Linked DNA regions of Homo sapiens: region 2 is linked to region 1. The links come from fine-mapping of genetic effects on gene expression. A gene starts in region 1. The other region holds a variant in brackets. All regions are shown on one strand. Distances are from middle to middle.

The links. PIP is the estimated chance that this variant, and not a neighbour inherited with it, causes the effect.
Region 2: its variant is the best candidate, but not a certain one, in a credible set for the expression of ZNF114 in hippocampus (GTEx, PIP 0.55).

Annotation. Positions count from the first base shown.
Region 1 is chr19:48,264,878-48,273,719 of GRCh38, forward strand. ZNF114 (zinc finger protein 114) reads left to right here and starts at 5,204. Exons shown (of 6, transcript NM_153608.4): 1 at 5,204-5,342; 2 at 6,368-6,572; 3 at 6,850-6,951. It overlaps ZNF114-AS1 (ZNF114 antisense RNA 1), which reads right to left and starts at 6,955. Exons shown (of 3, transcript XR_936008.4): 1 at 6,739-6,955; 2 at 5,268-5,356. RefSeq lists enhancers at 2,216-2,265, 6,445-6,951, 6,952-7,457.
Region 2 is chr19:48,287,512-48,296,353 of GRCh38, forward strand. ZNF114 (zinc finger protein 114) reads left to right here. Exons shown (of 6, transcript NM_153608.4): 6 at 1-97. Among named protein-coding and RNA genes, the nearest start is that of ZNF114-AS1, 20 kb to the left of the region's middle. RefSeq lists enhancers at 3,626-3,675, 3,696-3,745, 3,863-4,511, 7,791-8,292, 8,293-8,792. The variant G/C (reference allele first, on the strand shown) is at 3,520.

The DNA of each region.
Region 1 (8,842 bases):
AAAGGCTCCTAGGGGAGGGGTTAGTGAAGGGACAGAGGGATGACAGGCTGTCACCACAGACCGCTGATGTCCCAGCTATGGGAGACTGCCCACCTCCCATAGACATTTTTTTTTCTTTTGAGATGGAGTTTCGCTCTTGTTGCCCAGGCTGGAATGCAATGGCATGATCTCAGCTCACTGCAACCTCTGCCTCTCAGGTTCTAATGATTCTCTTGCCTCAGTCTCCTGAGTAGCTGGGATTACAGGTGCCCACCGCCACGCTCAGCTAATTTTTGTATTTTTAGTAGAGATGGGGGTTTCACCATGTTGGCCAGGCTGGTCTTGAACTCCTGTCCTCATGACCCACTCGCCTCAACCTCCAAAAGTGCTGGGGTTACAGGCATGAGCCACCGCGCCCGGCCTCCGTAGACATTTTGTCAGAGGCATTTGAACCAGAGCAACTCCATCTTGAGTAGGAGGTGGAGAAAATGAGGCTGAGACCTACCGGGCTGCATTCCCAAATGATGAAGGCATTCTAAGTCACAGGATGAGATAGGAGGTCGGCACAAGATACAGGTCATAAAGACCTTGCTGATAAAACAGGTTGCAGTAAAGGAGCCGGCCAAAACCCACCAAAACCAGGATGGCGACGAGAGTGACCTCTGGTGGTCCTCATTGCTACACTCCCACCAGCTCCATCACAGTTTACAGATGCCATGGCAACGTCAGGAAGTTACCCTATGTGGACCAAAAAGGGAAGGCATGAATAATCCACCCCTTGGTTACCATATCATGAAGAAATAACCATAAAAACAGGCAACCAAGGCCGGGCACAGTGGCTCACGCTGGTAATCCCAGCACTTTGGGACGCTGAGGCGGGCAGATCACCTGAGGTCAGGAGTTCGAGATCACCCTGGCCAGTATGGTGAAACCACGTCTCTACTGAAAATACAAAAAAAATTAGCAGGGCCTGGTGGTGGGCACCTGTAATCCCAGCTACTCGGGAGGCTGAGGCAGGAGAATGGTGTGAACCCAGGAGGCGGAGGTTGCAGTTTGCCGAGATCACGCCATTGCACTCCAACCTAGGCAACAGGAGCGAAACTCCGTCTCAAAAAAGAAAGAAAGAAAGAAAGAAAAACATGTTAAATGACAACACAAGGATCTAATTGGCAAAACTGAAACCAAAGAAAATTTTACAGAAAAAATGACCTACTTTCTACAACAATAGCAATGTTTGAATGGGGGGATGGAATTAAATAAGTGGCAACTTAGATTAACAAAGAATTAACACACACACACAAAAACCTATTATAGTGGATGATTTGTATCTCTATGCAAAGCAATAAAGTAAAAATAAGAACCAGGGAAATGACAACATTAACGGGATATTTTATGATGTCCTGAATGATGATTACTTTTCATTGTAAGGGAGTATTCATGTAAGACAGTAAAGCATTTTTTAACTCTTCATCTTTTAAACATACATAGTGATATTTTTATTTTTTATTTTTTATTTATTGATACAGAGTCTCACTCTGTCACCCAGAGTGGAGTGCAGTGGCAAGATCTCAGCTCACTACAACCTCCACCTCCTGAGCTCAAGTGATCCTCCCGCCTCAGCCTCCCAAGTAGCTGAAGTAGCTGGGACTACGTGCACCACACGCCTGACTAATTTTTTTTTTTTTTTTTTTAGAGACAGGGTTTTGCCATTTTGCCCAGGGTGGTCTCGAACTCCTGAGCTCAGGCAATCCACCCACTTCGGCCTCTCAAAGCATGAACCACTGTACCTGGCCATCGTAGTGATATTTTTACAGGTGAAATAATATAATGTTCCCAATTTTCTTTAAAAAGATCCACCTAGCAGTGAAGGCATAGGTGAAACGGGATATTGAGGATACCAGAAAAGAAGCAGGTTTTTTTGTGGTTTTTTGTGGGTTTTTTTTTTTTTTTTTTTTTTGAGACAGAGTCTCGCTCTGTCACCCAGGCTGGAGTGCAGTGGCGCAATCTTGGCTCACTGCAACCTCCGCCTCCTGGCTTCCAGCGATTCTCCTGCCTCAGCCTCCCAAGTAGCTGGGATTACAGGCGTCCACCACACCCAGCTAATTTTTGTATTTTTAGTAGAGACTGGGTTTCACCATGTTGGCCAAGCTGGTCTCGAACTCCTGATCTCGTGATCCGCCCGCCTCAGGCTCCCAAAGTGCTGGGATTACAGGCGTGAGCCACCGCCCCTGGCCAAGAAGCAGGTTTTTGAAGGGAGAGGATGAGAAAACAAGGGAAGGGAAGCACTGCTGGAGATGAAGACCCAGAGAAAATAGAAGGGAATTGGACACCTACAACCACTAGAGGTCGCAAGAGGAATATCCTTTAGTGCCCTGAGCCCAGACCTGAACCAAGGTTTAACAGGGTTCTTCTCAAGTCCTTGGACTCCTTCGGTCATAATTTGGGAGCCTCCAAAAAGGAGAGCCTGAAATGAGGGCTTACGTGCAGGTAGTTTATTTGGGGAAGAGGTCAGAAATTTTCTTTTTTTTTTTTATGGAGTTCCGCTCTTGTTGCCCAGGCTGGAGTGCAATGGCACACTCGGCTCACCGCAACCTCCGCCTCCCAGGTTCAAGCGATTCTCCTGCCTCAGCCTCCCGAGTAGCTGGAATTACAGGCATGCGCCACCACGCCCGGCTAATTTTGTATTTTTAGTAGAGACGGGGTATCTCCATTTTGGTCAGGCTGGTCTTGAACTCCTGACCTCAGGTGATCCGCCCACCTCAGCCTCCCAAAGTGCTGAGATTACAGGTGTGAGCCAACGCCCCCAGCCCGAGGTCAGAAATTTTCTTATGTCACATTGTACTTTTTTTTTTTTTTTTTTTTTTTTGAGACAGAGTCTCACTCTGTTGCCCAGGCTGGAGTGCAGTGGCACGATCTCGGCTCACTGCAACCTCTCCCCGTCAGGTTCAAACAATTCTCCCGCCTCAGCCTCCCGAGTACCTGGGACTACAGGCATGCACTACCATGCCTGGCTCATTTTTGTATTTTTAGTAGAGACGGGGTTTCACCATGTTGGCCAGGCTGGTGTTGAACTCCTGACCGCAGGTGATCCGCCCGCCTCAGCTTCCCAAAGTGCTGGGATTACAGGTGTGAGCCACCATGCCCAGCCATACATTTTACTTTTGAACACTACATACCGTGGAATACTTTTCAGACTTTAAAAGGAATGAAATACTGATACATGCTTCACCGTAGGTGAACTTGGAAAACATTGTGCAAAATTAAATACGTCAGACACAAAAAGGCAAAGGCCGAGTGATTCCACTTCTAGGAGATTCCTAGAACAGTCAAATTCCTGGACACAGAAAGTAGAACAGAGCTTACCAGGGACTGAGAGAAAAAGGGAATGGGGTGTGATTATTTAACGGGTACGGAGTTTTAATTGGGAAAGATGACAAAGTTCTGGAGATGAATCGTGATGATGGTTACACAGCGATGTGGCTGTACTTAATGCCACTGAAGTGTACACTTTAAAATGGTTCACATGGAGGCCGGGCACGGTGGCTCATGTCTGTAATCCCAGCACTTTGGGAGGCCGAGGTGGGTGGATCACGAGGTCAGGAGATCGAGACCATCCTGGCTAACATGGTGAAACCCCATCTCTACTAAAAATACAAAAAAAATAGCTGGGCGTGGCAGATGCCTGTAGTCCCAGCTACTCAGGAGGCTGAGGCAGGAGAATGGCGTGAACCCGGGAGGCAGAGCTTGCAGTGAGCCAAGATCGTGCCACTGCACCTCAGCCTGGGTGACAGAGGGAGAGTCCGTCACAAAAAAAAAAAAAAAAATGGTTCACATGGAAATGTTTGTGATGTATATTTTATCACCGTAAAAAAATGTAACTGGGGTAAGTATGATCAATATTTGGCAATTTAAGCTTTATGGTAGAATTTCATTACTAGAGTGAAGAAAGACAGTCCATAAAAAATAAATTATTTAGGCCGGGGTGCAGTGGCTCATGCCTGTAATCCCAGCACTTCGGGAGGCCGAGGCAGGTGGATCACCTGAGGTTGCGAGTTCGAGGCCAGCCTGACCAACATGGAGAAACCCCGTCTCTACTAAAGACACAAAACTTAGCCAGGCATGGTGACGTGTGCCTGTAATCCCAGCTACTCGGGAGGCTGAGGTGGGAGAATTGCTTGAACCCGGGAGGCAGAGGTTGTGGTGAGCTGAGATTGCGCCATCGCACTCCAGCCTGGGCAACAAGAGCGAAACTCCGTCTCAAAATAAATAAATAAATAAATTATTTAATTGACCAGATAGGGACTCCCAGCCCTTCCTTCCTGGGGAGCTCCAGGAGCTGGCTGGGCTGGGCTTAATCTTTCCTCCCAAAGAACCAAAAGAAAAAGAGATGCACATCAAGGTTTGCTGGGGACCCTCAAAGGAAAAGAAACGATGTAACTCGAGTAGAGGATAAACGCTTTGTTCAGCTGATTTGCATCAGGGGCACCTGAAGATCAAGCGACTCCCCAGTTAAGCAGAGTCAGGGTGGGAAACTGAGTCTGTGTCCTAGAGGTCTGGGTTTAGGCAGTCATTTTGGGTTTTGTTTTGTTTTGTTTGTTTTGAAACGGAGTCTTGCTCTGTCACCCAGGCTGGAGTGCAATGGCGCTATCTCAGCTCACTGCAACCTCCTCCTCCCAGGTTCAAACGATTCTCCTGCCTCAGCCTCCCGAGCAGCTGGGATTACAGGTATGCACCACCATGCCCAGCTCGTTTTTGTATTTTTAGTAGAGACAGGGTTTCGCCATGTTGGCCTTGAACTCCTCGCCTCAGGTGATCTGCCCACCTCAGCCTCCCAAGGCCAGAGGATCACTTTAAGCCCAGTGTCAGGCCTCTGAGCCGAAGCTCAGCCATTGTAACCCCTGTGACCTACACATATACGTCCAGATGGCCTGCAGGAGCCAAGAAGTCTGGAGCAGCCGAAAAACCACAAAAGAAGTGAAACAGCCAGTTCCTGCCTTAACTGATTAACCCACCTTATGACATTCCACCATTATGACTTGTTCCTGCCCTGCCCCAACTGATCAGTCGACCCTGTGACATTCTTCTCCTGGACAATGAGTCCCATGATCTCTCCACAATGCACCTTGTGAGCCCCTCCCCTGCTGACAACAAATAACCACCTTTAACTGTAACTTTCCACTGCCTACCCCAGCCCTATAAAGCTGCCCCTCTCCTATCTCCCTTCGCTGACTCTCTTTTCCAACTCAGCCCACTTGCACCCAAGTGAATAAACAGCCTTTGTTGCTTACACAAAGCCTGTTTAGGTGGTCTTCTATACGGACACGCGTGACACCCAGGAGTTCGAGACGAGTCTGGGCAGCATAGTGAGTTTTCATCTCTAAAAAAAAAAAAAATTAAAATTAGCCAGGCATGCCTTGTACGTGCCTGTGGTCCCAGCTACTTGGGAGACTGAAGTGGTAGGATCGCTTGAGGCTGCAGTGAGCCAAGATTGCGCCACTGCACTCCAGCCTGAAGGACAGAGCAAGAACTTGTCTCAGAAAAAAAAAAAGAAAAAAAGAATAAGAAAAGGAAAAAAATAAAAAAGGAAGGAAGGGAGGGAGGGAGGGGCAGAGAGGGAGAGAGGAAGGGGGGAAGGAAGGAAAGAAAGAAAGAAAGAGAAAGGGAGGGAGAGAGAGAAAGGAAAGAAGGGAGGGAGGGAAGAAAGAGAAAGAAAAAAGAAAGAAGAAAGAAAGAAAGAGAAGAAAGAAGGGAGGGAGGAAGGGAGGGAGGGAGAAAAGGAGGAAGGGAGAGAGAGAAAGAAAAAGAAGAAAGAAAGAGAAAAAAGGAAGGAAGGAGGGAGGGAGAGGAAAAGAAAGAAAGAGAAGAAAGAAAGAGAAAAAAGGGAAAGAAAGAAAAGAGAAAAAAGAGAAAGAAAGAAAGAAAGAAAGAAAAGAAAAGAAGGGCCGGGCGCGGTGGCTCACGCCTGTAATCTCAGCACTTTGGGAGGCCGAGGCGGGCGGATCACGAGGTCAGGAGATCGCTGAAACCCTGTCTTTACTAAAAATACAAAAACTTAGCCAGGGTGGTGGCGGGCGCCTGTAGTCCCAGCTACTCGGAGGCTGAGGCGAGAGAATGGCATGAACCCGGGAGGCGGAGGTTGCAGTGAACCGAGATCGCGCCACTGCACTCCAGCCTGGGCGACAGAGCGAGACTCCGTCTCAAAAAAAAAAAAGAAAGAAAGAAAAGAAAGGAAGGAAGGAAGAAAAAAATCATTTCAAGGGTAGGCGACGGGAGCCTTGCGGTTTAGCCGCTAGTCAACGGATGGGGGGGAGTGGTAGCAAAAACATAAAAATGGGGACAAGAGAGAAACTGGAGACTCCCCAACCTGTCTGTTTCCGCCCTTTTACAGTACTGAGGGGAAAAAAAAGCCTTCTTTCCTTGGGAAATGCAGGAAGCCAGCAAGCGGCCGGAGTCTCCGGAGCCCGCAAGGAGGCGCGTTGGCTGCGCAGAGAGCGCGCTTCCCAGCTGGAGAGCCTAGGAACGGTGGCGCGGGCGGAGGCGACAGCGAGGACCCAAGGCTGGGGTTTCCTGCTTGGATCAGGAGTGCCTGGGGAGTAAGTTCTACAGGAAATGTCAATCTACTGGTCGTGGGGGTCAGACTCTGGGGTCGGGTCGATCGGGTCCCGGGGGCGGGGGGTGGGACGGGGGTGGGCAGGCAGGAGTGCGGGCGCTGGGATCCCCTGCCTGCTCGGCTCCCCTCTCCTCCCCCTGGTCCCTTACACCGTCCATTTTGAGGAAGGGGTCAAGAAGCGAGTACAAAATGTCTGGGCAGGACGAATCTCTGTAGTCGGTCCTTCCTGGCGGCCTCGTTAGGTTGATTTATTTCAACAGTTTGATCCCCATCCTGGTGCAGCTCCGAGACGCTCCTGGGCTGCGCGCGCTTTTGGGCTGCGCCACCGACAGAGACATCTGGAAGCCGGAGCTAGTGGAAGAGTAAGTGTGCCTGAGTGTCCGTACTAAGGGCGGGACCGGGCCGGGGCCCAGGGACTTGAGAGTTGCTGTCTGCAAAAGCCTCATTGTCTCTACCCTTCCGGGAGGAAAGGGGAAGGCACGAATGACCCACGTGTTCAGACCCCGAGCGCGCCCTTCACCTTGGCCCAGGGAGAAGGGCGCTTCCCCCATACCGTGCTGCAGCGTTGCGAAAGCGCCTGTCCCCGGGCTTGGGCAGCAGAGATGCCCGCATGCAGCGGTTGCAGGGGTTGTGTTCTTTGCATCCATGAAAGTATTGGAGCTGGCCGGGCGCGGTGGCTCACGCCTGTAATCCCAGCATTTTCGAAGGCCGAGGTGGGCGGATCACCTGAGGTCAGGAGTTCGAGACCAGCCTGGCCAACATGGTGAAACCCCCATCTCCACTAAAAATACCAAAATTAGCTGGCCGTGGTGGCATGCGCCTGTAATCCCAGCTACTCAGGAGGCTGAGGCAGTAGAATCGCTTGAACCCGGGAGGTGGAGGTTGCAGTGAGCCGAAATCGAGCCATTGCACTCCAGCCTGGGCGACAGAGGGAGACTCTGTCTCAAAAAAAAAAATAAATAATAATAATAATAATAATTAGCCGGGCATGGTGGCGGGCGCCTGTGATCCTAGCTACACGGGAGGCTGAGGCAGGAGAATCGCTTGAACCTGGGAGGTGGAGATTGCAGTGAGCCGAGCGCCTGTAATCCTAGCTACTTGGGAGGCTGAGGCAGGAGAATCGCTTCTACCTGGGAGGTGAAGGTTGCAGTGAGCCGAGATCGTGCCACTGCACTCTAGCCTGGGCGACAGAGCAAGACTCTCTCTCAAAAAAAAAAAAAAAAAAAAAAAAAGTATTGGATTGGAGCCTGTTGTGATGAGGGTGAACTGAAAAGTCCTGGGCAGGGCCAGACGTGCAGGATGCACTGGTTTCTTACGAGAAAGAGCTTTTTTTTTTTTTTTTTTTTTGAGAGGGAGTCTCGCTCTGTCACCCAGGCTGGAGCGCTGTGGCGCGATCTCTGCTCACTGCAAGCTCCGCCTCCCGGGTTCACGCCATTCTCCTGCCTCAGCCTCTCAAGTAGCTGGGACTACAGGCGCCCGCCACCGCGCCCGGCTAATTTTTTGTATTTTTAGTAGAGACGGGGTTTCACCGCGTTAGCCAGGATGGTCTCGAGCTCCTGACCTCGTGATCTGCCCGCCTCGGCCTCCCAAAGGGCTGGGATTACAGGCGTGAGCCACAGCGCCTGGCCAGATAAAGAGCTTTGAGGGTTTGAGTTCCGTGTGCTGAACATGGTCTTTTATGGGAACTGAGACCTCAGCAGAGGAAATATATAAAAAGGACAAGCTGCAAGGAGAGTGGTGTGAAGGTGTCAGGATCAAACCCCACGGTCGGAACAAGATGCATTTTTATCACTAATCCGCTCCGGTGAGGTCTGATTTACTGGAACTCAGGGCAAAGGTGGGAATGTGTTTCATCAGCCAGGTATATCTTCGTCATGGACAATCAGGCAAAAGCCAACCTCAGCCTGCTCACCTGAGCTGACTCACAATGATGCGTTGTTTTTCTTTTTCTTTTCTTTTCTGTTTTTTTTTTTTTTAAACTACTGTCCTGAGCTGATGTGTCTGAGGTTACTAGGGTCAGAACCGGCGCTCCAATTGTATTGGGGAAAGGACGGAATTCAGGGAAACTTAAATTGAAATAGGCGGTTTTATCTTCTTAGGTAGGCTTACAGCTGAGATGCGTGTAATGGGGTTATCATCAGGTGTGGCTGTTTCCTTGGGAACTATAAGGTCAAGATAGACGTGGAATGTTGTGTCTCAAAAACTCTTATTTACAGCTCAGCCCCTGAGTTGCACAGGCTTGCTTCTGTGTCA
Region 2 (8,842 bases), 23 kb after region 1:
TAGGAAAGACCTCTTTAAACACTTACCACTCATGTTGCATGTGAATCCACATCCTGAAGGGAGGCTACAACTGGAATAAAAATAAGAAAGCTTTCAAGGCCTGGTGCAGTGACTCACACCTGTAATCCTAGCACTTTGGGAGTCCAAGGTGGGGGATTGCTTGAGTCCAGGAGTTTGAGACCAGCCTGGGCAACATGGAGAAACCCCATCTCTACAAAAAAAAAAAAAAAAATGCAAAAATTAACCAGGAGTGGTAGCACATGCCTGTAGTCCCAGCTACCTGGGGAGCTGAGGCAGGAGGATCGCTTGAGCCTGGGAGCTTGAGGCAGCAGTGAGCTGTGTTTGCACCACTGCACTCCACCCTGGGTGACAAAGTGACACCCTGTCTCAAAAAAAAAAAGAAAGCTTTCAGGTCCAGCCTTTCACTTAGGCACAATGAGCGCACAGTAGGACTGAAACACTGTAAATGTTCATGATTTTCCAGTTTTTCCTTTCTAAAAAAAAAAATGCTACAAGATGAAGGATATCCCTCTTTGCACACTCCCAGCTCTGCCACATAAATGTTGGTATATAGCAGGTTCATTATAACTCACATACACGTGGTCTCATTTTCAATGTGAAGCCTTCTTTGAGCCTCATTCAATTTAGACTTGGGATTCATATACTCCATGATACCATTTTTGTCTTATTGGTCACTGTTCAACTGCATTATGGTCAGAGTATGTGGTCTTTCTGGTACCAACTTGGGTTACTTGTTATGACTTTGTCAGTCTAATGTGCCCTATTCTGTCAACTTCCCTGCCACCTCCATTCTTCTCATCTTCTTTACTAAGGGCACATAGATTCACTTTCCACAATGAGCACTATTTAATGTCTTATTTTTATTTTTATTTTATTTATGTATGTATTTATTTTGAGACAGAGTCTTGCTCTGTCACCCAGGCTGGAGAGCAGTGGGGCAATCTCGACTTACTGCAACCTCTGCCTCCTGGGCTCAAGTGATTCTCCTGCCTCACCCTCCCGAGTAGCTGGGATTACAGACACCCACCACCACGCCCAGCTAATTTTTCTATTTTTAGTAGAGACGAGATTTCACCACGCTGGCCAGGCTGGTCTCAAACTCCTGACCTCAAGTGACCTGCCTGCCTTGGCCTCCCAAAGTGCTGGGATTACAGGCATAAGCCACTGTGCCCGGCCTCTTTTCAATCTTTTAAAAGTTGGGAAACGGCCGGGCATGTTGGCTCATGCCTGTCACCCCAGCACTTTGGGAGGCCAAGGTGGGCGGATCGCCTGAGGTGAGGAGTTCGAGACCAGCCTGACCAACATGGAGAAACCCCATCTCTACTAAAAATATAAAATTAGCCAGGTGTGGTGGCTCACGCCTGTAATCCCAACTACTCAGGAGGCTGAGGCAGGAGAATTGCTTGCATCTGGGAGGCGGAGGTTGCGGTGAGCCGAGATTGTGCCATTGCACTCCAGCCTGGGCAACAAGAGTGAAACTTATCTCAAAAAAAGTAAAAATAAAAATAATAAAAAATAAAAGTTGGGAAATATGACTACCTGAAAATGCATGAAAATGTACATATACATTTTTTTTTTCGAGATGGAGTTTTGTTCTTGTTGCCCAAGCTGGAGTGCAGTGGCGTGATCTCCGCTTACTGCAACCTCTGCCTCCCAGGTTCAAGTGATTCTCCTGCCTCAGCCTCCTGAGTAGCTGAGATTACAGGCACCTGCCACCACGACATTTCAAAGTTAATAAAGTGATCACCCTTATACCCACCATCCAAGCCCGTAAACAGCTCATCATTAAACACCAGGCAATTCACGTCTGTGCCTCACAGACGACATCTCCAGCCCCAAGAGGAAACCGCCATGGTTCATTTTGTATCATTCGCCCCCCTCGCTCATCTTTATGTTTGCAGCTATGCAGAAATCCCCAAATACCCTGTTTTCTAGTTTCGATGATGTTTATGCTGCGTATGATGGCATGGCATAGAATATTTCTTTGTGCCTTGCTTCTTTCAGGAAAAGAAAAGCTAAGCAGGTAGGGTGCAGGTGGCATTCATTCTTTCTTAGTTATATTCATTCCAGAGACCCTGGATCTGTATCTCACTTTAGAGATTATAAACATGCTGCTAACACCAATTTTGCAAAGCCCTCCCAATGAGCATTTTATGAAAGTCATTCTTGGCCGGGCGTGGTGGCTCACGCCTGTAATCCCAGCACTTTGGGAGGCCGAGGCAGGTGGATCACTTGAGGTCAGGGTTCAAGACCAGCCTGGCCAATGTGGTGAAACCCCGTCTCTACTAAAAATACAAAAATTAGTCAGGCATGGTGGCATGCACCTGTAGTCCCAGCTACTCAGGAGGCTGAGGCAGGAGAATTATTTGAGCCCAAGAGGCGGAGGTTGCAGTGAGCCGAGATCGTGCCACTGCACTCCAGCCTGGGCAACAGACAGAGTGAGACTCTGTCTCAAAAAAAAAAAAAATAGGCCGGGCGCGGTGGCTCATGCCTGTAATCCCAGCACTTTGGGAGGCCGGGGTGGGTGGATCACTTGAGGTCAGGAGTTCGGGACCAGCCTGGCCAACATGGCGAAACCCCATCTCTACTAAAAATACAAAACTTAGCCAGGCATGGTGCAGACATCTGTAATCCCAGCTACTTGGGAGGCTGAGGCAGGAGAATCACTTGAACAAGGGAGGCAGCGGTTGCAGTGAGCTGAGACTGCGCCACTGCACTCCCGTCTGGGCGACGGAGCGAGATTTCGTCTCCAAAAAAAAAGGAAAAGAAAAGAGAAACGCCACTGGTAAGAGCAGAGGTCCTCCTAGGCGCGCATTCTGCATGGCCCCAGCACTGTTAAGTTCAGCTTTCAGTGTTTGGGGAAGACCTGCAGGTCAGGGACCCCCACTGTGGCTGAGGGGGCTCAAGCTTGGCCCTTTCTCCCGGACCCCTGCTGCCTGCGTTTCCCAGCAATCTGCTGCTTTATCCTAGAATCTGGGTGACTCATGGCCCTCCCCATCCTGGAAGGAATGAAGAGGAGGAGGGGAGGCTGCTATGCCAGGACAGTCCCAGACCTTGCCAAGGGGCCTGGGTCCACTCCCACCCCCAGGGAGCGCTGTGCGGAGGAAAAGGACCATGGCTGAAATCAGAATCCCTGGATTCAACCGGGGGTGGAGGGGGCCGGGGCGGGAGGGGGGAAACATCTGTAGCTGAGGGAACACCCCTCCCGCCTCCAGTCGCTGAGGCTGAACTTAGCCGACTTTGGGGATTCCCCACCCTCTACCCCCAACTGGTCCTCAATTCTCACAGATGTAAACTGAGAATTTTCAACAATCGTTTTGGCAAACATACGCCAGGCCCCCTTCTGAGCGCTTTGCACCTATTAACTCATGCAACGCCTGCAACGCTATGAAGTGGCTGCTGTTATCACTACCATTTTACAGTGGGGGGAACTGAGGCACAGCGAGGCCAAGCACGATGCCCAAGATCACACAGCCAGCAGGTGGCCGGGAGGGGCTC[G/C]ACCCCGTGCTGTCAGGCACCAGAGACTCGGCTCTTCAGCCCCAGGCCAGAGCCTCCCTGCACTGACGGGGTCGCGAATTCGGGCAGGAGGGTTCGTGTGTGTCCTCACCTCTGGGACGCGAGCTCCGGGGACGGGGGACCTCGTCTGGCGTGGGAGGCATTTAGTGAGCGCCGTGGACTGAAGCCGGGACGGTCTTAGGAGAACCACTTCCCTTCTTGGCCGCCTGAAACCCCCTACAGGGTTCTGCTTCTGGAACTGCATTCGAGGTCAGAGTTTCTAGTACGAGTAAAGCGGATCCTCGGGAAGAGACCCGACCAGAAGGAAATCGCCGTCTTGGAAGATCTAAGTCCGGGATGGAACAAAACCCACTCCGGGCGGGGGGAGCGCGCCACCTGGCGGCGGATCCTGCTAAGGCAGCGCCGCCCGGAGACCAGAAACGTTGGATTTGGGCAGTGGGCCGAGGTGGTTGGAATTGGCGAATGGGCAGTTGTCTGAAAATCATTGTGTGAAACTAAGGACTGTCTACCAGTGGCTTCCAAAATTCTGACGCACAGTAAGAAATCATTTTGCGTCAGCATTTTTTTTTTTTTTTTTTTGAGACAAGGTCTTGCTCTGTTGCCCAGGTTGGAATGCAGTGGCACGATCTCGGCTCACTGCAAACTCCACTTCCAGGGTTCAAGCGATTCTCCTGCCTCAGCCTCCTGAGTAGCTGAGATTACAGGCGCCCGTCACCGCGCCTGGCTAATTTTTTATTTTTAGTAGAGATGGGGTTTTACAATGTTAGCCAGGCTGGTCTCGAATTCCTGGCCTCAAGTGATCTGCCCGCCTCGGCCTCCCAAAGTGCTGGGATTGCAGGCATGAGCCACCGTGCCTGGCCGCATCAGCATACTTTTACAAAAGAATACCACCCTCTATAGCCAACAACAATGGATTGTATACTTCAAAATAGCTAGAACATTTTGCATGTTTCACCGCAAAGAAATGGCAAGCATCTGGGATGATGGATTTGCTAATAACCTTGATTTGATCACTGCACAATTTATATATGTATCAAAACATCACGCCGCATCCTATAAATATGTACAATTAAAAACAAAATTTAGGCCGGCTGCAGTGGCTCATGCCTGTAATCCCAGCACTTTGGGAGGCCGAGGTGGGTGGATCACCAGGTCAGGAGTCCCAGACCAGTCTGGCCAAGATGGTGAAACCCCATCTCTACTTAAAAAAAAAAAAAAAAAAAAATTTGCTAGGTATGGTGGCGGGCACCTGTAATCCCAGCTACTAGGGAGGCTGAGGCAAAGAACTACTTTAACCCGGGAGGCAGAGGTTACAGTGAGCCGAGATCGCGCCACTGCACTCCAGCCTGGGTGACAGGGCGAGACTCCGTCTCAAAAAAAAGAAAATTTTAGTTTTAAAAATACCACCCTGTATTACACGGCCCTGTATTACACGATGCTTTATATTCCACTCTATTCCTTTTTTTTTTTTGAGACAGAGTGTCACTCTATCACCCAGGCATGATCTCGGCTCACTGCAACCTCTGTCCCCCAGGTTCAAGCAATCCTCCTGCCTCAGCCTCCCTCAGCCTCCTGAGTAGCTGGGATTACAGGCTCCCGCCATCATGCCCAGCTAATTTTTGCATTTTTAGTAAAGACGGGGTTTCACCATGTTGGCCAGGCTGGTCTCGAACTCCTGTCCTCAGGTGATCCGCCTGCCTCAGCCCCCCAAGGTGCTGTGATTACAGGCATGAGCCACCAGGCCCGGCCTATTCCTATTTTTAAATGCTGGTCAGGTCACCTTAAAATGGTTTCCTGACTCTCTAAGGGTCTGGGATAGGGTTTTCCACTGTTCTAGATTATCCCCATGTTTTTTCACTTGACAGAGATTATGATGAGGAACCGGTTACACCCACGCTACCTCCCAGTGAGCCTTCCCCACCACACAAAGCTGCCTCCAGGATTCGCTGCCAGCTCTGATGTCAGGATGAGTAACAGCTCAGGATGCTGAAGACACTGGCCCAAGACCACACAGCCTGGATGTGGCAGTGCCTGTTTCTGCCTCACTCCTGGAGGAGGAAAATGATTAAATACCCGTAATTTCACTGCTATTGAGTACAATTTAATTCATCCTTCCTCCACTTTGGCTGATAAGATTGAGCTGCACTCACCTGCTGTTCTCTTAGGCTGTAGCATAAGGCATTCCAGAGGTCAAACTTTAAAATGTCTTTTTCACTTTGGGAGGCCAAGGCGGGAGGATCACTGGAGGCCAGGAGTTCGAGACCAGCCTGGCCAACATGGTGAAACCTCCATCTCTACAAAAAATACAAAAATTAGCCGGGCGTGGTGGCACACATCTGTAGTCCCAGCTGCTCAGGAGGCTGAGGCATGAGAATCACTTGAACCTGGGAGGTGGAGGCTGGAGTGAGCCAAGATTGCACCACTGCACTCCAGCCTGGGCAACAGAGCAAGACCCTGTCTCAAAAAAATAAAAAATCAAAAATCTAGGTTGAATTCTCAGGTGTCTCTAAAGTGGCCTTCGATGTATTCTGCGCTGGGTGCTGCAGGGTTGACCATCTAAAAGTGGCGAGCCCAGCCCCAGTCCAGGGGAAGGTAGAGGAAGTGAACCTGCTCATTGTAGGACTAGGACCCTTGAGGTGACAGAGAGCTGTGGTTAGCCTGAGTCCATCGCACTGTGGTGGTCTATGAGGCCGCTTTGCAGGGGCAGCAAATCAGAAGGCTCGGTCTGCTGTGCTTACTCTGCTATCTTTGGAAGGAAAGAGGAGGAAATCGCTCCGAAATGGGAGATAGGGCTGGTGGTCACGACTCAGCTCCACACCAAGATGAGACTTCCTGGGCCCCCAGGGAGGAAGAATAGCAGTTCCACTGCCAGGAGCCACGCCTCAGAGGAGCTGCCTTTCCACCTCCCTCCTGAAATGCCATTTTCAAATTTCTCCTTTACTCTTCCATCCCCAGAACCTAGTACAATATATGGCACATAGTACATGCTCAATAAATATTTATCAAATTAATGAGAAAAGATATGTGGATGTCCCCTCCTGTGCAGCTGTAAGGGGAGAAATAGAGTTCTTTTTTTTTTTTTTTAACTTTCCTACACCAGTTTTATTTAAAACACAAAAATAAGTATTTCTCTTTCTGTAAGGAAAAATGGCTCAAATATTGCTGAACACAGGCCAGACTCAGTGGCTCACGCCTGTATTCCCAGCACTTTGGGAGGTCGAGGTAGGAGCACACTTGAGGTCAGGGGTTCGAGACCAGCCTGGCCAACACGGTGAAACCCCCATCTCAAATACAAAAAAAAAAAATTAGCCAGGCATGGTGGCAGGTGCCTGTAATCCCAGCTACTTGGGAGGCTGAGGCAGGAGAACTGCTTGAACCCAGGAGGCGGAGATTGCAGTGAGCTGAGATTGTGCCACTGCACTCCAGCCTGGGCGACAGAGCGAGACTCCGTCTCAAAAATAAATAAATAAATAAATAAATAGAAAGAAAACACTACACTCCTTTCCATCTTTATCGCTGTCCTGCTAATAGTCACATGTAGTTCTGAGCATTTACTACTTGCCAGGTACTGTTCTGAGGCTTTCTGTGTATCAGTTCATTTTATTCTCACACAAACAAGTATGTACTATTATCAAGCCATTTTATTTATTAATTTATTTATTTTCTGAGATACAGCTTCACTCTTGTCTCCCAGGCTGGAGTGCAGTGTCATGGTCTCGGCTCCCTGCAACCTCCGCCTCCCAGGTTCAAGAGATTCTCCTGCCTCAGCCTCCGGAATAGGTGAGATTATAGGCATGTGCCACCACACCCGACTAATTTTTGTATTTTTAGTAGAGACGGGGTTTCACCATGTTGGCCAGGCTGATCTTGAACTCCTGACCTCAGGTGATCCGCCAACCTTGGCCTCCCAAAGTGCTGGGATTACAGGCGTGAGCCACCACGCCCAGCCACTGTTCTAAGGCTTTGTGTATAAATTCATCTTATTCTCACACAAAAAAGTATGCACTATGATCAAGCCATTTTAAGGGGAGGCTCAGGGTGCTACCTGGATTAGGAAGGTGGATGATAGATTATCTGTTTGGATTTGAACTTTTTTTTTTTTTTGAGACACTCTCACTCTATTAACCAGGCTGGAGTGCAGTACCATGATCTCGGCTCACTGCAACCTCCGCTTCCCAGATTCAAGCAATTCTTGTGCCTCAGCCTCCCGAGTAGTTGGGAAGACAGGTGCACATCACCATGCTCTGCTAATTTTTGTATTTTTAGTCGAGACAGGGTTTCGCATGTTCACCAGGCTGGTCTTGAACTCCTGGGCTCAAGTGATCCACCCACCTCGGCCTCCCAAAGTGCTGGGATTACAGGCGTGAGCCACCACGCCCAGCCTGAATTTTTAGAAGTTTTTATATAGCTTTGATACCAATGGATTAAATTTTGACAGGGCATTTGGCATGACTCAACTACAGGAAAGAGTTATCAAGGTGTTCTAAGCCCTCTCACTCCTACACCCACCCCCGCTGCAGGAAAGGGCCAAAGTCAGCTTTTTCTCTGTGACCCTGTGGCTGGAGTTAGGGCTGTCCATAAATAATCCTTCCTTTCTCTCCTTCCAGGCACATGAAAAGACTGCGCTTCCCGGCGACCCTTTGAAGTTCGGCGTAACCTGCTGACCCGCTCTGGCTGAGTGTGAGCTAAGAGGACAGGTGTCATATCAGGTCCAAGCCTCGAGAGTCACTGCCTGCTGTGCCATCCTCTCTTCTTCCCGTGCCAAAGGACTGGCAGCACTCCAGTGATGGCTGTGCCATGGGCCCGGGGTACACGAGTGATATGGAGCGGAGCGCTCAGCTGGCCCACAAAGGAGAGAAAACTCTGCTGCCTGAGGACCACAGAGAATCTGCAGCTGTGACTGCAGCACAGCCCAGCCTGCCCTGACCAACATAGCTCCAAGAGAGCCAGACACGTGGATCTCAGAGAAATGGATGAATAGGCTGGGTGCGGTGGCTCACGCCTGTAATCCCAGCATTTTGGGAGGCTGAGGTGGGCAGATCACCTGAGGTCAGGAGTTCAAGACCAGCCTGGCCAACATGGTGAAACCCCATCTCGACTAAAAATACAAAAATTAGCCGGGCGTGGTAGTGGGCACCTGTAATCCCAGCTACTCGGGAGGCTGAGGCAGGAGAATCACTTGAACCCAGGAGGCGGAGGTTGCAGTGAGCCGAGAACGTGACACTGTACTCCAGCCTGGGCAACAAGAGGGAAACTTCATCTCAATAAATAAATAAATAAATAAATAAATAAATAAGAACGCTGA